Linked DNA regions of Homo sapiens. The protein of the gene in region 3 interacts with the protein of the main gene of each other region in a pairwise test. Each region holds a gene or a part of one and is shown on either strand. Other genes may lie near its edges.

What was found. The genes of interacting proteins can lie anywhere in the genome.
Region 1: the proteins of HID1 (region 3) and CHAT interact in binary tests that used the Homo sapiens proteins (3 or more experiments, as listed by UniProt).
Region 2: the proteins of HID1 (region 3) and SPRED1 interact in binary tests that used the Homo sapiens proteins (3 or more experiments, as listed by UniProt).

The regions. Positions count from the first base shown.
Region 1 is NC_000010.11:49,609,407-49,617,039, forward strand, and holds the start of CHAT (choline O-acetyltransferase), read left to right. Parts: upstream 1-4,630; 5' UTR 4,631-4,783; coding exon 4,784-5,069; intron 5,070-6,616; exon of another isoform or gene 6,617-6,646; coding exon of another isoform or gene 6,647-6,686; intron 6,687-7,095; coding exon 7,096-7,196; intron 7,197-7,633. Other genes in the region: SLC18A3 (vesicular acetylcholine transporter), read left to right, coding at 1,335-2,933. UniProt on the Homo sapiens protein: Catalyzes the reversible synthesis of acetylcholine (ACh) from acetyl CoA and choline at cholinergic synapses.
Region 2 is NC_000015.10:38,346,817-38,353,838, forward strand, and holds part of SPRED1 (sprouty-related, EVH1 domain-containing protein 1), read left to right. Parts: intron 1-2,605; coding exon 2,606-2,707; intron 2,708-4,197; coding exon 4,198-4,848; 3' UTR 4,849-7,022. UniProt on the Homo sapiens protein: Tyrosine kinase substrate that inhibits growth-factor-mediated activation of MAP kinase. Negatively regulates hematopoiesis of bone marrow.
Region 3 is NC_000017.11:74,969,740-74,976,838, forward strand, and holds the start of HID1 (protein HID1), read right to left. Parts: upstream 3,021-7,099; 5' UTR 2,918-3,020; coding exon 2,852-2,917; intron 1,054-2,851; exon of another isoform or gene 950-1,053; intron 1-949. UniProt on the Homo sapiens protein: May play an important role in the development of cancers in a broad range of tissues.

The sequences.
Region 1 (7,633 bases), on a different chromosome or scaffold from region 3:
GGGAGGGCTTGGTCGGGTGCGAAGAGTGCCTGGGAGGAGTTAGAGTGGGGAGGGGGTGCGGCGGCGGGGAGAGAAGAGGCGGAGCTGGGGGACCAGACCGCTAAAGGAGAAAGGGGGATTCCAGGCAAGGGGAATGTGGCCAGGCAGTGCGGGAGGGCGGCAGCGGCCAGGCTAATATTCGCGACCCCGACTGGGGCGCGGCAACTTCTGCCCTCAGTCCCCACAAGCTCCCGGCCGCGATTCGCGGCCGAGAAATTCTGCGGAGGGGCCGGTGGGTCAGAGCCAGGCCAGGCAGTTGCTGAGCCTTCCCCTCCCCTCCTGGCGGGAGTGTGTGTGCAAGGGGCCAGGGGGCGGAGTCGGAGAAAGGGTTGGGGGTGTCCGTGTCCAGCGCTCCTCCGGACGCGGCTCCACAATCCAGCTGCGAGAACAGATGGACGCAGCGGCGGCTCACCTCGGGGGCTTCCTGCTCGCTGTGCGCCGAGGTCCAGGCTGAAGCGGAGATCGCAAGCCTCTGGCTCCCGCCTCTCCCAAGGGGCCTCGAGGAACCGGCTGCCGCGCCCCCTTCCCCAAGAGGAGAAGAGCGGGCGCTGACCCCGCGAGTCCTAGAACCGCGGGCGGGGGGCAGGCAGGGGGCGGGGGGCAGAGGGCCAGCTACCGGCGCGGAACGCCCATCCCAGGGGCTGGTTCAAGACTTCCACACCGAGAGCCCTTCCTGGGCCTCCAGCCCTGGAGCATCTGGAGAGCGGACCCCTGCCCGGCCACGCCCCGCCCCCGGCCCCCGCCCCGCCGACGTCGCATTAGCATGAGCGACGTAAGTGGCCCGGGCACCACTCGGGGGCTGGGACTCGCCGCGTCACAGCCCCGAGTGGAAGGGAAAAAAAAAGAGGAGGCGGCGGAGGAGGCAAGAGCCGACGCGAGGGGAGGGGAGCGCAGCGGCGGGGCTAACGGGCGGGCAAGCGGGCGGGCGGCAACAGCATGTCCCTCGGCCAGCGCGGGCGGCCTCTTAGCGCGGCGGGGGCTGCTCTGGGCGCGCCCCGGGCGAAGTGCGCCCAGTCTCCGGCCCCGGCCCCTCGGCGCGCCCGACTTCCCGGCCGCCCCTGAGCCCAGCAGCCGCGGGTCCCGGGATCGGCTAAGAGTAGCTGCAACGCCTCGCCGGACGGAGTCCTTTCCTTTCCCGGGACGCTGGGCCATGAGCTCCGCGGCCACCTGAGGCACAGGGGAGTCTGCTCGGCCAGGACAGCCTCCCCGAAGTCCCGTGCCCTCGCCTCTGCACTGCGGGACGCCAGCGCTCGGCCCTGGCGGAGGCGTCCTCGGAAGAGCATCGGGGTGGGGGCATGGAATCCGCGGAACCTGCGGGCCAGGCCCGGGCGGCGGCCACCAAGCTGTCGGAGGCTGTGGGCGCGGCGCTGCAGGAGCCCCGGCGGCAGAGGCGCCTGGTGCTTGTTATCGTGTGCGTGGCGCTGTTACTGGACAACATGCTGTACATGGTCATCGTGCCCATAGTGCCCGACTACATCGCCCACATGCGCGGGGGCGGCGAGGGCCCCACCCGGACTCCCGAGGTGTGGGAGCCCACCCTGCCGCTGCCCACTCCGGCCAATGCCAGCGCCTACACGGCCAACACCTCGGCGTCCCCGACAGCTGCGTGGCCAGCGGGCTCAGCCCTTCGGCCCCGCTACCCTACGGAGAGCGAAGACGTGAAGATCGGGGTGCTGTTTGCTTCCAAGGCTATCCTGCAGCTGCTAGTGAACCCCTTGAGCGGGCCCTTCATCGACCGCATGAGCTACGACGTGCCGCTGCTGATCGGCCTGGGCGTCATGTTCGCCTCTACAGTCCTGTTCGCCTTCGCCGAGGACTACGCCACGCTGTTCGCGGCGCGCAGCCTGCAGGGCCTGGGCTCAGCCTTCGCCGACACGTCTGGCATAGCCATGATCGCCGATAAGTACCCGGAGGAGCCGGAGCGCAGTCGTGCACTGGGCGTGGCGCTGGCCTTCATTAGCTTCGGAAGCCTAGTGGCCCCGCCCTTCGGGGGCATCCTCTATGAGTTCGCCGGCAAGCGCGTGCCCTTCTTGGTGCTAGCTGCCGTGTCGCTCTTTGACGCGCTGTTGCTGCTGGCAGTGGCCAAACCCTTCTCGGCGGCTGCACGGGCTCGGGCCAACCTGCCAGTGGGCACTCCCATCCACCGCCTCATGCTAGACCCCTACATTGCCGTGGTGGCCGGCGCGCTCACCACCTGTAACATTCCCCTCGCCTTCCTCGAACCCACCATTGCCACGTGGATGAAGCATACGATGGCGGCTTCCGAGTGGGAGATGGGCATGGCCTGGCTGCCGGCCTTCGTGCCTCATGTGCTGGGCGTCTACCTCACCGTGCGCCTGGCGGCGCGCTACCCACACCTGCAGTGGCTGTACGGCGCGCTTGGGCTGGCTGTGATCGGCGCCAGCTCGTGCATCGTGCCCGCCTGCCGCTCCTTCGCGCCGCTAGTGGTCTCACTATGCGGCCTCTGTTTTGGCATAGCCCTAGTCGACACAGCACTGCTGCCCACGCTCGCCTTCCTGGTGGACGTGCGCCATGTCTCAGTCTATGGCAGCGTCTACGCCATCGCCGACATCTCCTATTCGGTGGCCTACGCGCTCGGGCCCATAGTGGCAGGCCACATTGTGCACTCGCTGGGCTTTGAGCAGCTCAGCCTTGGCATGGGACTGGCCAACCTGCTCTATGCTCCCGTCTTGCTGCTGCTCCGCAACGTGGGCCTCCTGACGCGCTCCCGTTCCGAGCGCGATGTGCTGCTTGATGAGCCACCGCAAGGTCTGTACGATGCGGTGCGCCTGCGTGAGCGTCCTGTGTCTGGCCAGGACGGCGAGCCTCGCAGCCCGCCTGGCCCTTTTGATGCGTGCGAGGACGACTACAACTACTACTACACCCGCAGCTAGCATCCCCACTCCTCCTCCAGCCCACCCAACCGCCTTGGGTCAAGGGGGCTGCTCTGCAAGCCCACTGGCCAGCTCTGGCTCAGGGCCCACCTCCTCCAGCGAGTACCCCAGCCACTCCTCAACCTTGACTTCTGCCCAAATCCCCTCCCTGTGACCCGTTCCATATCCCTTTCTCTCTTGTCCAATGGGGCTTGGAGCACCGAGGCCAGCGAAGCCATCGCGCTCCTTGCGGAGGTGAAGAGGACCCTGAGTCCCCACCTGCGGCTCCCCTGTGTAGAGCCTGCATCTGTCTGTCCTTCCTTCCATTGCTCCCAGTGCCAAACTTGGGCCGCTGCACCGCGGCGCCTCCGCCCAAATCAATAAACTGTGTCTGTCCCAGGAGGCCGAGTCTCTTTACTGGTGGGGGGTGCGTGGAGGCGCGCAGGGCCAGAGCAGAGGGGAGGGTGAACTGGGTCTCCAAGTCCCAATCCAGACCTAAGCCAAACTAACACGTAGGCACCTGTAGCTGTTTTTCTACCTGGAAAAGGGGATAGGAAGGAAGCAAACCCAACAAAGGCTGTCACCCACGGTCACCAAGGAGCACCATGCTCCCCTCAGCCCAGGATAGACCCTCTTTTCCAGGCCTAGCGCAGAGCCCGGGGATGCCGCCCGGGGGAGCCTGAGGACCCGCTCCAGCTAGGCACGCCAGGCCCCGCCCTTTGAGGACACGCCCCACACCAGCCTCAGAGCTCTGAGGTGCCTGGGCTGAGCTTCCCTTCAGACCAGAATCCCGCCCCGTTGAGGCTTTGAGAAAGGAGTAGGAGCCGAGCATTCCGGCAGAGGAAGAAAAACGGCCCATCTTTTAGAGTCCGACCTCTGGAAATGTGTGTATGATGTGATGTGTGTGTTCATTAGAGAACTTGTCCTAGGAGGAGTGGGGGAGCCGTGGTTGGTGTTTGCTGTATCCCTGTCAGTCCCGAGGGTCTGAGTCTTGAAGGGAGAGATGCGAGTGTGGGATCTGGTGCCAACCCCCACTGCCACCCTGTCCTGAGTGGGAGCAGCGGCCCAGGACTGTCAGGAAAGTTTCCCATCCTTAGTCCCAGCCCTGAGAGCCTCAAGCCAGCGTTCGCGCAACACTCCATGTCCCGAAGACCGTAGTCTGATGATCGAGGCAGAGTCTTCCCATCATAGCGTGAAGAGGCGGCTGGTCAGGGTCGCCTGTGTGTTAGCTGCGCCTGTGAGGGTCTGCTCTGCTGTTGTGCGCATGTCTGTCCTCGATCTGCGAGTCGGGCTGTGTGTGCCTGGGCGGAGTCTGCCTTTGTCGGTCTGTCTGTGCTATTTCTGTGTGGGGGTCTCTATCTGGGGTGGGGGATGCTTTTGTCTGAGAGGAGAGCCTGCCTCTTGCCGCAGTCCTTAAGCATCCTCAGGTCTGCCATCAGGATTGTCCCAAGTCTGTAGCACCCCACCTCTGCTCCCCACCCCATAGTGCCAGCAGGAATGGGATGGTAACAGAAAGGGAAGTCCTGCAGTGAATATTGATCCCAGTTATTGTTTCTTATTATTATTTTGAAAGATGGTGTAGCAGGGTTTGAGACTGGCCTGGATGGTGGGGAGAGGAGGGCAGCGAGCAGAGACTTCCTCAGACCCAACCCTCTCCAGGATTCAGCAGCAGCACCCCAAGGCTGGAATAATGGGGTTGGGGAAGTGCGGTGACTGGGAAATGCTGAGCTAGGGGCAGGAGGCATGGGCGGGACAGTGTTCTGTGCCCCCTTCTAGAGCCTAAATTTGTTGCCCGAGTTCCTCCGGGAAGCGCTCCGGGTAGATTCTGGGGGCCGGGAGCTGAGATCCCTGGGCGGGGAGCTGGGGAAGGGATGGGGCTGAGGACAGCGAAGAAGAGGGGGCTTGGGGGAGGGGGGAAATGGAAGAGAGAGGAGGGAGGAGGTACAAGAGGAAGGAGAGAAGTGCGGCCAGCTTGCTTTCTCCAGTCGGGTGGCCGCGGGGACCCGGGCGACGTCGGAGGCCCTGCCGGGAACCCAGGCTGCAGCCCCCACCCCCGCGCTGCGACACGCCCCCCACCCCTTCCGGCTCACACCCCCGCCCACACTCCTGAGTGGTGCGGTGCAGCGTCGGCCGAGGCAGCAGAGCCGAGGAGAGCAGGTGAGAAGAAGGGCTGGGCTGGGCTGGCGGAGCGCGGTGCCGGGAGCAAGGGCGGCGGTCGGGGGCTCTATCCAGGGACAGCACCGGGGCCGAGAGGCCCCAGGACTCGTGGAGTCCTCTGAGTCCTGCGCAGCAGCGGCCGTCGGGGGTCAGCTAGGAAGCTGCAGGATTGCGTTGCTTCGGTGCCTGGGCTTGGGGAGGCTTAACCATCAGGGCTTCGGGACTCCAAGCGCATGTTCTCACTTCACTTGGCCCAGCATCTGCTAAGTGACCAGGTCCGCGCTTTCTGTGTCTAGTCGGAGGGTCCTTGGGTCTGACCCGACTCGCCTGAATTGCTGGTTGGCAACCGCTTCTCCCGGGAGCAGGGGGTGGGGAAGGAGGAGCAGTGGCTGGTGGCAAGTCTGAGCCAGGACATAGCCGATGACAGCCTGTGAATGACCGGCCAGACTGGGGTTGGACCTTCGGGGCAGAGCAGGCAGCCCTTGGAAAGCCAGGCTGGCAGGAGCATGGGTGGGAGGCACAAAACACAAACAGACATATATACACATACATCCTCTAGGCATCTGCCCAGGAGTGATGGAGGAAGAAGAGTTGGTAGGTGGGACCACCAGGAAACCATCCCACCCAGCTCTGCCTTCTTCAAGCTCAGGGTCCCTGAAGCCTGACTAGTGTCTCCCGAATGGGGGGGAGGGGGGGGCTCTGGGCCAGAGCAAAAGGAGGCATTGGCTGCATGGTCTGTAGGGCCTTTACCAACCTGACCTTGTCCTTGCTGTCCTCTCAAAAGACTGCCATGCTCCGGTGAATCCTCACCAGGACGCCACCTCTTTCACTTTGCAGTTGGGGGCAGCCCCTACGAACCCACAGCACTGGGAGGCGTGGGAACAAGCCTGTGGAGAGTGTCCCTGCACTGTGCCAGCAAGGGCTTTACATTCTCTGCCCAGCACTGCAAGGCAGCCCCAGGCTCCTCCATCCTTGGGCCTGGTTCATCCATCTTTCTGGACTCTCTGTTCCTGGCAACAACCCTGCCAGGTGCCCATACATGGGCGGTGCTTGCCTCTGGGTAGGGGTGGTGTTGGGTGGGGAGAGGGGTGAGGAAATTAGCTAAACCTCAGCTTTAGACTTGAGAGAATAGAGGGTGGGCTGGTGGAAAACATGAGTATGTGCCTGTGGAGGCTTAGGTTCAGGGGGATCTCAGAGGGTAGCAATTGTGACCCACAGCCTAATAATAACAGTCTTTGCCCTCTTGGCCTGGCTCACTTCTACTGTACCTTCAAAATTAATCTGCCTCTCCCCAGACTAAGGCAGGTGGCCCCTAGGGGCCCTGGCTGCCCAGCCTCCCTGCATACCTCCCTGGGCACTCCTATGGCATCTACACTGGCAGCCTGCAGACCCGAGACTGCCTAGGTCACAACGCCTCCAGCAGGCCCAGAGTCTCCCTGCCCTGGCCACAGGCCAGGCTCCCAATTAGCCCAGATGCATCCTGGAGCACAGGGCCTTAAAGGCCTCCATTCACCCACGCATGCATTCCTTTCCCTCCACCAACGGAGTGAGGGAATTCACCCTACTCCACACCAGAGATGTGGCCGGAATGCAGAGATGAAGCACTGAGCACAGTAGGTATGGTCTTACCCTTGAGAAGCTAGTGGGAAAGAGAGAGTTTGATTGGCAAAGCACTTATCTATTGGGTTCCAGGCAGGAACAAAGGCAGCACTCTGCCAGCAACCCCTGGTGGATTTGGATTGCCCCAGGGTGGTCAGCTGGCCTTGGGTGACAACAGACTCATGAGAGCAGACCCTCACTTTAGGAACCACTCTCTCCCATATGGGGGCCCAGAGAGAACACTGTGGTCAGCACGTACAGGTGGAAGTAGAGACTGGGGCCACGCCTGCAATGAGACCCCTATACACAGCTGTCAGGCTCTGGCCTCCTCATGGGGCTGGGGTGGGGGTCTGTTGGCGGGAGGTGGAGGGTTTGTGACAGGCCTATGTGGCTGCTGTGTTGATGCTTCCCACTTCTTGGTCCCCAGGTCCACACCTCTGCATCCCTGCACCAGGACTCACCAAGACGCCCATCCTGGAAAAGGTCCCCCGTAAGATGGCAGCAAAAACTCCCAGCAGTGAGGAGTCTGTGAGTGACTTTTGGAGCCCTCTCTCAACCCTGCTTTCCCCACCTACATGCCCTTGCTTCTAGAACAGTCCTGAGTGGGACTGGCCCCCAGCATTTGCCTGGCCCCAGCCCTGCCCTCTACTGGCACAAGGCCCAGGCTACAGCTCCACCCCCAGCTTGCTGAGGATCCCAGAAGGGCCTGGAGGGGCTGAGACGGGCCTCAGGGTGCCAAGGAAATGCTAAGAGCTTAACTTCCAAATCCCCTGGCCAGGCTAGGCCCTATCTTTCCTTCCAGGGCCTCTCTTCATCCCAGCTTCCACTTCTGATAGCTTTGAGCCCAGTGATTTTGCCTTAGGGTGGGGCTGAATTCCTACTCCAAGCCCTGCAAGTCCCAGCTCCAGCTGCTATCACTAGTTCAGCCTTGGAGCCTTAGGCACCATGTTCTCCACTGGCCTGAG
Region 2 (7,022 bases), on a different chromosome or scaffold from region 3:
TTAGGATTGATGTGTACCACCTACAGGGGATATGTATTGAGTATTTGAAAGACTTCGGAAATAACTGTGATTGTTCCTTTACAAATGGATTTTAACTGCATGCTTTCATATGGCCTTGTTACTAGGTAATCAAATGTTCTGTGTTACTTCCCTGTATATTCTGGATTCAGATCTTTCTGAGTTTTATTTGTGGCTAGTATCTCCTAGTTGGTGATTATTTTTCACTCTTTGTGGTGTTTTGGTGAGCAGACATTATAAATTTTAATGCAGTTGAATTTATCATTTCTCATTATTTTTACAGACTCTTCCCTATCCTCATCTTAAAGATTTTCTTCCTAATCTAAAAGTTTTAAAGTTTTGTCTTTAATCCACTTTAATTTGATTTCTCTTCTATGGTAGGGACCAAATTTTATTTTTTCCACATAGGTTACTAATTGTCCCCGCACTGTTTATTGGAGCCTTTCCCCGCACTGATATGCAGTACCATATCTGACACATCAATTCTCTATATATGTTTGAGTCTGTTTCTGATGTCTCTAATCTAAATTAGTGTCACATTGTCATCTTTACTGTAGAAATGCTGTAGCTCTATAATAACTTAATATTTGTAGAGAAAGTGCCTAACTTTGTTTTCCCGCTTGGATCTTTTTTTTTTTTTTTTTTTTTTTTCAATTTGGCTGTTTGCCCTTTTAAAATATTTAGAATCAGCTTGTCAAATCTGATGAAGAATCCTTTTGTGGTTTATATTTGAATTGCGCTGAATGTGTGTGTTAGTTTAGGGGATAATTTATCATCTTATTCGTGAATATGATATATACCTCTGTTTAGCTCTTCTTCTGTATCTTTACATAAAACTTTGTATTTTCTTTGTGAAAAGATAATACATATTTTATAGGATTATTTCTTTGTACCATTTTTGTTGTTCTATTATAAATGGAATCCTTTTAAAATTTTAATTGTGACCAGCTTTGAAGAAGCATCTCTTATGACTTTTTCAGCTGATAAATTTTCCTGAAGATTATAGCAAAAGTACCAAATTTTGAGGGTATTAAAAAGCAGAAATTAATTGGGGTGTATCTTATCACATCTGTTTTTAGTAAGTGTGAAAAGGTCAATATTGTCCATTTATTTGTCTTTTCACTTAGAGATTGTGTGAGAGAACTAATATTCATAGACCCTGTTGACTCAGGTAGTTTTCAAAGTGTGTATGTGTTTAAGTGGTGTGTGTGACTTTTTTCTGAGACAGTGGTGAGAAAATTGACATTTTTACTCTTTAGAATAGTTCTTAGAAATGTATATTTAATATACTAGTTGAGGTCATTGTGTTCTATCAGGAAAAAAAATTGTTCTCTCTGCTTCCTTTTGTGTAATGTTCTTCTGTTTTTCTTTTTTTCACTTGACCAAATATCTAGCTTATTCTGTGTTTACTTCAAGTCGCATTTCCTTTCATGCCTTCCCAGACCATTTAATCCATAGTTATTTCCTCTTGTTAATTTCTAAATTCTTACAGATTCTACTTATAAACATAGAATGGCCTCCATATTGTATCATTAAATGCAGAGACCAAGGGCACAGTACAAAGGGTCCTATTTTAAAGATCTGTGTGTGTGTGTGTGTGTGTGTCTGTGTGTGTAAAAATTTTTGGAGGAATGCACTAAAAAATTTTTTTTATGATAGTTAACTTTTAAAACTGGGTCTGAAAGGTCTAAGATGGAAGGAAGAGTTTTACTTCATGTGCTTTTATACTATTTGAAAATTTTGCTATCTGCATGTATTACTATTTATTTTCAGGGTTATAGTGTTTATTAAGTATGTAACAGTAGGAGTTGGCTCAAAATTATCTGGAAAAATAAGAAGTAAACAAGATTGCCAAAATGTTGATGATAAGTGAAGCTAGATAATAGACCCATGGTGATTCATAACATTATTCTCTCCTTTTATGTATATTAGAATTTTTCACCATAAAATTTTAAAAATTAAACATTGATATATTCTAGCTATAATTTAGGTCTGAAATGGGCTTTGCAATTCGAAACACTTGTAAATGTATCAGGACACTAAAGATTCCTATTTTTTTATTGCTATATAATTCACCTACCACAAAATCATCCTTTAAAAAAGTATGTAATTTGGTGGTTTTTATTATATTCACAAGATTGTGCAGCCATCAGCAGTATCAAATTCCATATCACTTCCCAAAAAACCCACACTGATTATCAGTCATTGCCCCTCCTTCCCTATTCCCAGCCCCTGGCAACCATTATTGTGACATGTGTAACTACTTTATTTCTCTTTGTGGTTGAATAATATTCCACTCTATGGATTTACTACATTTTGTTTATCCGTTCATTAGTTGATGAATATTTGGGTTGTTTGTACTTTTTTGACTATGTATTCATTACTTGTTAAAGTTTAAATATGTAAGAAAAGACCTATGGTTTTTGTTTGTGTTTTAGGTGGGGGGAAATGATTCTATTTTTATTCTCAAAACCGTTTTTGAAAAACTTTACTGCTAATAAATTATGAGGTTTTGGAACATACACTGTACAGTTTCATTAAAAGTAAAATTCTTGTGTCATTTAAGTAGAAATTGTTTGTATTTTAGATAACATTTGGTCAGCCAGGCTTGGACATTCAGAGCAGAAGTATGGAATACGTACAGCGGCAAATATCCAAGGAATGTGGAAGCCTAAAGTCCCAAAATAGGGTAAGTAATGTTAGTTTATCTTGTGATATGGAATTTAACTAATTAATAGATAGGTAAAGTTTTCCAGTCTTTCTAATTCTCCATATAGTTGAATTGTACTAGAAAATTTTTCATTGTATAAATTTGCTGCCTATGTGCTTAAACGCTGTTAGTTAAAAACTCTGCAAACTTCTCATTTGAGTCTAAAAGATTGCCAGAGCTGCATTTATTAGATAGGACCAAAAGGAATTATATATTGTTAATTAAATAAACTGTATCTGTCACCCCACCTTTAGCTCAGACCTAGAATTTTCTTAGCCCTAATTCCATGTATCTAGGAAATAGAAGTTTGCCCCAAACTGAGTCAGATGCTTACTTGTAGTAGACTAGTCACTGTGTCCAGGGACTGGAGCTAAAGATACAAATTTGTCTACTTAGAAGCCTGCATTTATGGATGATGTAAGGGGTCAAAAGACTTAATTTTGTTCTTTGGCCTCAAAGAACCAACCTTCCCAGAAGGGTTGTGGAAGTAGGGGTATTTTACGTCATTGTTCAGAGACTTTTTGTGTACCCAAGCTACACACATGTGTGTCTTTGTATTAATTTGCTAGGACTCCCACAACAAAATATTACAGACTGGGTAGCTTCAACAACAGAAATTTATTTTCTCACAATTCTTAGAAGTTCAAGATCAAGGTTGTTGGTAGGTTTGGTTTCTTCTGAGGCCTTTCTTCTTGGCTTGCAGGTAGCTGCCCTCACATGGTCTTTCCTCACTTTGCCCTCACATGCTCTTTCCTCTGCCCGTACATCCCTGGTGTCTTTCTCTGTGTGTCCAAATTTCCTCATAAAGAAAACAGTCAGATTGGATTAAAGTCTCTCTTAAGGGCCACATTTTAACTTAGTCACCTCTTAAAAGGCTCTATATCCAAATACAGTCGCATTACTGGAGGTTAGGGCTTCAGCATATGAATTTGAAGAGGACATAAGTCAGACCATAACATTTTGTCCTTTGTTCCCAAAATCATGCCCTTCTCACTTGCAAAATACATTCATCCTTATCCTAACAGCCCCAAAGACATAACCCATTCCAGCATCAACTCTTAAGTCCCAAATCTCATCTAAATAACGTCTTTCAATCAAGTGTGGGTAAGTGGCTCATGCAATAGTAGAGGTACAGATCCAAAACAGGGTAGGCTGTCTGGAGACCCAAGAAATAGTTGTAGTCTGAGTCCAAAGGCACCCTGCTGGCAGAATTTCTTCTTGCTCAGGGGGAGCTCAGTCTTAGTTCTAGTAAAGCCTTCAACTGATTTTATGAGGTCCGCCTATACCACAGAAGGTACTGTGCTTTCCTCATAGTCCACCAACTGAAATGTTGATCTCATCCCAAAAACATATCATAGAAATGTCCAGAATAATATTTCAACAAATATCTGGACACTGGCCCCACCAAGGTGACACGTAAAATTAACCATCATAGCCCTCATTGCAGTTTTTATCTGTTTCTTTTTTAGGTCCCTTTGAAATCAATCAGACATGTCAGCTTTCAAGATGAGGATGAGATTGTCAGAATAAACCCTCGAGATATCTTAATACGTCGCTATGCAGACTACAGACATCCTGACATGTGGAAAAATGACTTGGAAAGAGATGATGCTGATTCCAGTATTCAGTTTTCTAAACCAGACAGTAAAAAATCAGACTATCTGTACTCTTGTGGGGATGAGACTAAGTTAAGTTCACCCAAAGACTCTGTGGTATTTAAGACGCAGCCTTCCTCATTAAAAATTAAGAAGTCAAAACGAAGAAAAGAGGATGGTGAACGTTCTCGCTGCGTATACTGCCAGGAAAGGTTTAATCATGAAGAAAATGTTAGGGGAAAATGTCAGGATGCTCCAGACCCTATTAAAAGATGCATATATCAAGTTAGTTGCATGCTCTGTGCAGAGAGCATGTTGTATCATTGTATGTCAGACTCAGAGGGAGATTTTTCTGATCCCTGTTCGTGTGACACTAGCGACGACAAGTTCTGCTTGCGATGGTTAGCCCTGGTAGCTTTGTCTTTCATTGTACCATGTATGTGCTGCTACGTCCCTTTGAGAATGTGCCATCGCTGTGGTGAGGCATGTGGTTGCTGTGGTGGGAAACATAAAGCTGCTGGATGAAATGGTCCAGTGCCAAAATGAGCTTAAAATCTTTGTTTCCAGGAATTAGCTAACTTGGATTTGTGGAAGCTTTTGGCAAGCAATATGGAATCTTGCCTGGTATCATTGAGCCCACACATGGAGGAAGCAGAACTCATCAGTTCTTGGCGTTTCACGCCATGCCTAACTTTTCCCTTGAGTGCATGGCATGTTTTGTTACAGGTTGTAGAGTATTTGCAGAAGGAAACCATTTCTGGTTATTTGGCTATAAAAAGTCAGCATAAAATATGATCCAACTAAAAGGGATTAATTTTTGGCATTTTTGTATATTTATGCATTAGGTGATGGGACTTTTAAAGGTTTGAATTTATTAGGACACGAACTAAAAATAAAAGTGCACTAGGGGACAGTTGATTTCAATCTAAGAAAAGTTAACACTTGGGAATTACAAGAAGTAAAACAAGTGCAACTAAATCATTTATTAGTTGTTTTTTGAAAGCAGTTTTATGTATAAATAACAAATGTTTATATTTAACTAAATGTAAGGTACGAATTATTACATATTAAACTTTTCTTCCCCTTCCTAGTTCTGAAGTAGATATATATATATATATATCTACTGTCACATTCCATATATTTTGAATATTTAACTCATCTAGTTAATAATGTTTTTATTCCATGCGAATGATTTGATATTTTCATCCTTATTTCTCTTTGGCTACAATTTATATTGAGTTATATCTGTACATTCTGGTAATCTAAAATCCTTAAAAATACTCTAATAGCCTTGAGTGACCAACTTTTTTTTTAAAGCACAGATGTAATTGTCTAATGTTCTGATGGGAACGTAACACTTATTTTTATATAAAAAGAGACTGAGTAAACAAACATTATAGAAAAAAAGTGAAGTTTTTTAGTTGTTTTTTGTGGTATTCAACCAGCAAGTTGTTTTCTTTCAGAGTTTCCTCCTTCAAAAAGTTATATTGCATTTACAAATGTTTTACAAGGCAGAAAGTTTGACTGGATAGTTAGTGTAAAAGCTTCATGTTGAGATCTTCACGTATCATTCTGCTAAACCAGAATATGTTCAGCTGTGTTACTAATTTTTCAGCTTAATCCTCAGTGCTTATTATTTACATAACAATAACTTTTTATCAGTTACATTTTATTTTTATTTAAACTGGCCAAAAGCAAAATTATTTTATGTTAAAATGTGTGCTAAACTATCCCAGGAAAGTATTTAATCCAACATTGTAAATGAAGTATCTTGTACATATAAATTTATTTCTTTTGCAGAGCATTATATTACTGGATGTTTAATTTACAAAATAGTTGGGTAAATGTTCCAACAAACTTTAAAGTACCTTGAAGTCAAATTGTCTGTTTTTGTTTTGTTGTTGTTGTTGTTGTTTTCTTAAGTGTTACATTAAAACTCTAACCAAGGAAAGGGTTCTTTAAGAACATTCCCTTAGAGGGATAAAGTTGAGAAGTGTGCCTTTTTTTTAATGGCTTGAAGTTTCAGAGGTGATAAAAATTAAAATCACACTACTATTTGAAGCTCATTTTCTATGCAGGTTTTTAAACGTCATTTATGTATCATTCTTTTTATATATCACACTTAAGCTTGTGTTAGCTTTTTTCTTTTGCCCCAGATCAAACTGAACAATGTATATAACACTATCTGTCTGTAAAATACTTTTTTTAAGAAAGCATTTATATTTATATGACAGCTTGAACTGACAACATTGTGTATATAGATCATCTTGAAGTATTATTTCACATTGAAAAGAAGAAAATATATTGATAACTATAGATGTTATGAAGAAGAGGGTATTTCTAGTTTTGTACTAAAAATCAATTGGATGAACTAAATCCAAAACATGACACTGTAGGCAGCAGTTTTAAGTCTTATTTTTACTGTTTATATATTTGAATGCTGCTACAACAGATGATCTTCATCCCTGAAGTTTTCAGCTAAACTTGGTTTCCTAGAATAGACTGTTAACTTTCAAAATTTTTATTGGTGAAATGGAAATACTGTTTTTCCTTGTGAATGAATTTTCATATTTGTAAGTGCTAAGTTTATAATTCAGGTTTGATCAAGGTGTGAATAACTGAAGAAAATAACTTGCTGGCTATATAGGAAAATGCTGTGGAAATGAACTGTGTATATACTTCTGGGAGGAACAAATTTA
Region 3 (7,099 bases):
TACAGGCGCACCCCACCCAGCCCAGCTAATTTTTTTTATTTTTTAGAGATAGGGTCTTGCTGTGTTGCCCAGGCTGGTCTCAAACTCCTGGGCTCAAGCGATCCTCCTGCCTCCACCTCCCAAAGTGCTGGGATTACAGCCATGAGCCACCACGCCTGGCCAAAATCAGATTTTTCTTTTTTCTTTTTTTTTTTTTTTTTTGAGGCAGAGTTTCGCTCTTGTTGCCCAAGCTAGAAGCATGATCTCAGCTCACCGCAACCTCTGCATCCTGGGGTCAAGCGATTCTACTGCCTCAGCCTCCCGAGTAGCTGGGAATACAGGCATGTTCCACCACGCCTGGCTAATTTTTGTATTTTTAGTAGAGACGAGGTTTCTCCATGTCGCTCAGGCTGGTCTCGAACTCCTGACCTCAGGTGATCCTCCCACCTCAGCCTCCCAAAGTGCTGGGATTACAGGCATGAGCCACCACACCCGGCCCAAAATCAGATATTCTTAACCCAGCTTTTCCAGGCCCCTGCTCGGACTAGACCCCCACTCAGACCTGGGGGAGCAGTTGTATCTTTTGACTCTCAGGGTGTGCAGGGGGAAGGTCCCCTAGTCCTCAAGCCTGCTAAGCCTGCTCTAGAGGACTGTGTCACCATGCATTCCCATGCACATACATGTATACACATGTAAATATGCACCCGCCAGGTTCATCTGGCCTGCAGCAGAGAATTCCAAACAGGCAGGATCTGGGAGAGGGTTCCAGGTCTGGGACTGTCTCCCTCCAGAGCCCCACCTACTATGAGGAAGCACCAGGAAACACAGCCAAAGCGGCTGGCTCTTAGGACCAGGGTCAGGCCTGACCCAGGACTGGACCATGGGGCAGGAAGAAAACAGGATGCAGGGCAGGAAGGCGAGGAAGGTGGAGCAGCAGGGATACAGGCCCAGGCCACAGGAAAAGGGGCTAGTTCTGCCTGTCTACTGCCCAAGCCACACCCTGTAAGAGCCTGGAACCACATATCATCCTATGGACAACTGGCCTGAATCTCCTTGGGGACTCCAAGTGGTAAGGTCAGTGATGATCATCTGGGTTCTGATCCTCACACCCAAGCTACCCAAGTCAGGTCACTTACACAGAGTCCAAGGCTTCAGCCTCTGAAGGCCTCTCCCCCCGGGCAGCCCAGGCCCCCGTCCGCCTACAGGACCCAGTGCTCTCCAGAAGGCTGGTCTGATCTCCAGCCTATCCAGGTTCTATTCCAAGCCTACTCAGCTGGGAAACAGAACAGCACCATCTCAAGTGGCCCATCATAGGGCTGTAGCCAGGGAAAGACAGAGGGACACAGTATTTTGGGGAAAAGGCCTGAGCAGGTAGGAATCTAGGCCACTCCAGAGCCTTTGGTACTCTGCTGAGCTGGCCCCACTGGCCTGGCAAAGGACCCCAGCTGCCGAGCCCACAGTGCAATCCTCCAACAAGGAGTTTCTTCCCCAGGCAGGTAAACATGGGAGCCTCCCTTCCTCCCTGCCTCCCCACTCCTCTCCCTGCAGCCCTACACTGAGGGGCTAGCCCACTTGCCACCTTCCCTGCCACCCACAGAACGAAAACCCCATCCTAAAAAAGCCAAGCTCCAGAACGACCCAGGAGCCGTAGGGAATGGAGAGAAGTGCGGTCTGGTTTCTATCAAGAGCCTTTCAGCCGGGGTTGGACTCTCCAGAGGCCCTGGGCATTTGCTGCACATTTGACCCTTCCAGGGTGGGGAAAGGGGTGAGGGAGCAAGGTCTGGCCCCTGGAGCTGTGACCAGCTGGCTGTGGGAGCTGGCTTCCTCCATCCCACTCTAACCTCCAGCAGCAAGAGAGAGCCCTGGAGAGCAGGAGGTGGGGGGGCCAGGAAAGAGGAAGATCCCAGATGGCAGCAGGTCCTGTGTCCCCTGAAAATGGGGGACATGGGGAGTCAGGGCCGAGCATCTCTGTGGCCACGGTGGCCTGATTCAAAAAGCCAGGAGAGAAGGGGTGGGCAGAGAAGCAGTCTTGCTGGGGCCAGGTGGTATAAGGAGGTGGCTATTGGGCCACTTGTGGACTCACAGGAGAGTTATGAGCATGGACTAGGCTGGAGGGTCCTTAGGCCCCTCACCAGCTGACTGAGGGCCATCCTGCGGGTCCCCATCCCTGAGCCAGAGAACAGAGCACACAGGCTAACAGCCTTTCCCTTGCAGGGCCTCGGGGAAGGCCCCTGGAGAGGTCCCCAGCTGGGAGGCTGTGCTCAGTAGGCCTGGGGACAGGGCCCCCCACCAGGCTGCCTCGCTGCCCGCCACTCTTTGCGTGTTCCCAGGAAGACCTGGGCCTTCCCTGCCCACGGGCATCGACCAGGGCCCAGCGAGGCCGCTGCCGCGCACACCAGCTGTTTCTCCGACCCGGGCGGACGCCAGCCAGGCTTTGTTTGCATTGAGTCAACAGGGACTGTGCGTCCGGGACCCGCGGGCAATGAGGGGCAGGGAGGGGAGCGGACGGTGGATGGGTGGGTGGGGGCGGCGGGAGGCTGGAGATGCGAAGCTGGGGACGCCGCGGGGCGGGACAGGGGGCGGACAGCTGTGTCGCCGGCTCGGGGAGTAGGCACACGTCAGCCTAAGGTGGCAGCAGCGGCTTCGGGGAGAGGGGTGTTCCCAGGAGAGGAGGCTGAGGGTGGGGGACTAGGGCCAGGGGATGGAGCTTCCAGGTACAGGCCGCGGGGTCCCGTTCCGGCGCTGGCCTTGGCGTTACGCTCGGGGCCCGCCCGTCCCCCCATCTCCCGACGAGCCAAGTTCGCGTACCCCCGGCCCTGCCCAGCCCCCAGCCCGGCAGGTGGATGGGGACGCCGGGGCCCCCGTGGCGCACCTGCGTCTTGGTGGTGAGCTGGATCACCGCCTTCCGGAAGTTCAGCTTGGAGTCGGTCGACCCCATGTCTCTGGAGCCCGCTCCGGCCCGGCCCCCGCCCAGACTCCAACCCGGCTCCGGCTTCAGCTCCGGCTCCAGCTCCGCGGCCCCCGCGGCTCTCGCAGGAGACAAGCGGCGCGCCCCGCCCCCGGCCCTCGTCGGCCCCGCCCCGACAGGCCCCGCCCCCGCGTGGCTCCGCCTCCTGCACCTGCAGCGCCCGCCGCCGAAGACCCGCGGAGTCGGCGGTTCCAACCCAGCGCCGCCGCACGCCGGGTGCCTTCTCAGGTCCCACCCGGAGCCTCGACGCTCTTCCTTCTGCGTCGGAGCATTGTACCCGCCTCCGCTGCTACCACGCAGTCCCCAGGGCCCAAAACCCTCCTCGCAGCTCGTCCCCCGCCCCGGTCCTCACCCTTCATCTCCGCTCCGGCTCCTGGCCCACGTCTCAGCTGGCCCTCTCCATCCCACTTTCCTCCTTCTCAGTCTGTCTTTCCCATTCATGTTTTCTGAGCATCCACTCTCTTGGTTCTCCCTTTTTCTGACCTGTCAAACCCACGTGTTCAGACAGTCCCGCAGGCCCTTGGTTATGAGGGAGGGAGGCGCTGACTCAGTTTCCATACTCCAGGAAAGCAGCTCCTCGCCTTGCTGAGCGCGAGAGTCCCTCGCGGTCCCGACCCCTCTCTAGCCACCAGATTCCCAGAGAATCCTTTGAGATTCATCCATTTCAACAAATGTGCTGAGGGTCTGGTATTTGCCAACTCTGTGTCATGGACGGACACAGCGGACATAAGTAGTACAGCCTGCTCTTTATGGCGAGCAGCTAGGGAGAGGGATAAGGAAAGAAGCGGCCAGGGTACAGCCAAATAAGCCTGTAATAGAGGCAGATTAATCATCAAAACAAGGCCGGGTGCGGTGGCTAACGCCTGTAATCCCAACACTTTGGGAGGCCGAGGCAGGCGGATCACGAGGTCAGGAGTTCGAGACCAGCCTGGCCAACATGGTGAAACCCCGTCTCTACTAAAAATACAAAAATTAGCTGGGCTTAGTGGCGCACGCCTGTAATCCCAGCTACTCTGGAGGCTGAAGTAGCAGAATTGCTTAAACCTGGGAGGCAAAGGTTGCAGTGAGCCGAGATCACGCCACTGCACTCCAGCCTGGGCGACAGAGCAAGACTCCATCTCGGGGGGGGGGGGGGAATCAAAACAAGACGACAATGACGATATCTCTAATAGCTACCTCTGAGGTATTATTTTATCCCCATTTTACACTTGGGGAAAATGAGGCTTAAAGCAATTACTTGCCCAAAGCCACACAGGTAGTAAGGAGCTCATCCAAATGAGGCTGCGCTTTTTCCACAACATCATTTTGCAAGCTATGTCTGGAAGCTTCTGGAAATCTTGGATGCTTTTTTATTTTTTATTTTTTGAGATGGAGTTTCGCTCTGTCGCCCACCCAGGCTGGAGTGCAGTGGCACAATCTCAGCTCACTGCAAACTCCACCTCCTGGGTTCAAGCAATTCTCTTGCCTCAGCCGCCCGAGTAGCTGGGTCTACAGGGGCCCGCCACCACCCCCAGCTAATTTTTTTTTGTTTTTAGTAGAGATAGAGTTTCACCATGTTGTCCAGGCTGGTCTTGAACTCCTGACCTCAAATGATCCGCCTGCCTCAGCCTCCCAAAGTGCTGGGATTACAGGTGTGAGCCACCATGCCCAGCCCTATTATTTATTTATTTATTCATTCATTCATTCATGCATGCATGCATGCATTTTGCAGACGAGGTTTCACTCTGTTGCCCATGCTGGAGTGCAGTGGTGCAATCATAGCTCATTGCAGCCTCGAATGCTGGGACTCAAGCAATCCTCCTGCCTCAGCCTGCTGAGTAGTTAGGACTACAGGTGCACACCACCATGCCCAGCTAATTTTTTTTTTCATTTTTTGTATAGACAGGATCTTGCTACATTGCCCAAGCTAATCCCCAACTCCTGGCCTCAAGGGATCCTCCCACCTCAGCCTCCCGAAGTGCTGGGATTACAGATGTAAGCCACCATGCCTGGCCCCTAGATGCTTCAAAAGGATGTGACATTCACTTAAAGAGGAATTCTACAGGTGAAAAATGAGGGGCACGCCATCTGGGAGCAAAAGTGTGGCAGGGTGGAGCGGGTGTGGAGGGAAAGAGGAGTGCGAAGGGTGTCGCCATTTCACGGAACAAACAAACTCCACAGGGCAATGATAGGGTAGCTCTAGCCTTTCTCCGGAGGTGGGTTTTCCCCGCCCTGGGCAAAATCCTTGGCAGGTTTCATGGCTTTTCTAATCATTCCAAGATAATGAATGAATAGTTCCTTTATTTGGCATTAAAAAAAATCCAGTCTATTCTACAAATCACTCAACCGCATTCCAGGCCAGAGTGACATTAAAAACTCTCAATCATAATCATTAGGGAAATGCAAATTGAAACCACAGTAAGATAACACTACATGGCTAGCACAATGACTTTCAAAAGCTGGCAACATGCTAACAGTTTATTTCTTTATTTATTTTTAGTTTTTTGAGACAGGGTCTCCCTCTGTCATTCAGACTGTGCAGTGGCATGATCACAGCTCATTGCACCCTCTACCTCCAAGGCTCAAGCAATCCTCCCACCTCAGCCTCCCAAGTAGCTGGCATTACAGGTGCACACCATGACGCCCGGCTAATTTTGTATTTTTTATACGGATGGGGTTTTGCCATGTGGCCCAGGCGGTCTCAAACTCCTGAGCTCAAGCGACCCTCCTGCCTGGGCCTCCCAAAGCATCGGGATTACAAGCAGGAGCCACCGTGCTCAGCCTTCAAAAAGAAGAAAAAATAATAAAGGCAAGTGAAGGTATGAAGAAGGAGGAGGAGAAGAAGGAGAAGAAAAGAATTGAGAACTCTTGCTAACCAGCCACTCCGGGTGAAATTTTGACCCCTTTGGTCTTGCCCATCACTCAGAGCCATTTCTGTGGCTTGCAACCAGGAACTCCCAAGTGACATGGAAATATTACTGGATTTAATTGAGTCCACCCTCACCTAGCCTCAGGGGCTCTTCTACCACTCAGATGGGCATTCTCCTCCATAGATCATCTTTTTTTTTTTTTTTTTTTTTTTTCCGAGACGGAGTCTCGTTCTGTCACCCAGCCTGGAGTGCAATGGTGCAACCTCGGCTCACTGCAACCTCCACCACCCAGGTTCAAGCAATTATCCTGCCTCGGCTTCCCAAGTGGCTGGGACTACAGGCACATGCCACCATGCCCGGCTAATTTTTTTGTATTTTTAGTAGAGACGGAGTTTCACCGTGTTAGCCAGGATGGTCTCAATCTCCTGACCTTCTGATCCACCCCCCTCAGCCTCCCAAAGTGCTGGGATTATAGGTGTGAGCCACCACACCCGGCCCTTAGATCATCTTAATGCCAGGAAATCTTACAAAGTCTCTGTGCATTCACCCCACCACGGCATGGAAAAAAACATAACATTGTCCTGAGGAACTTGACCACTAACATATCTAAGTGGAAAAATACCCATTCATCCCTGACCGTTATTTACATTCTCTAAGTTAAGCTTAACATCCTCTCTAGTTCCACCAGTAATTATGTTTTTAAAATGCTGTCAGTTGTTTTCCAGTGATGCATATTGATATCTGTAGTGACTGGGCATTTGCTTTTAAATCTACTGCAGCAAAGAAAAACAGTTCGTTCCACCATTCTGTCTACTTTTGTGTGTGTGTGAAAACTTTTATAGTAAACATTTTAAGAAATAAGTCTGGATGTATGAAGAAAGAATATTCTCGGCCGGGCGCGGTGGCTCACGCCTGTAATCCCAGCACTTTGGGAGGCCGAGGCGGGCGGATCACGAGGTCAGGAGATCAAGACCATCCTGGCTAACATGGTGAAACCCCATCTCTACTAAAAAATAAAACATAAAAAAAATTAGCTGGGCATGGTGGTGGGCGCCTGTAGTCCCAGCTACTCAGGAGGCTGAGGCAGCAGAATGGCGAGAACCCAGGAGGTGGAGCTTGCAGTGAGCTGAGATCGCACCACTGTACTCCAGCCTGGGCGACAGAGTGAGACTCTGTCTCAAAAAAAAAAAAAAAAAAAAAAAAAAAATATATATATATATATATATATATATATATATATATACACACACACACACACTTACTAAATAAAACAAAATAAAACAGAGCTTTTAAAAAATTTTTT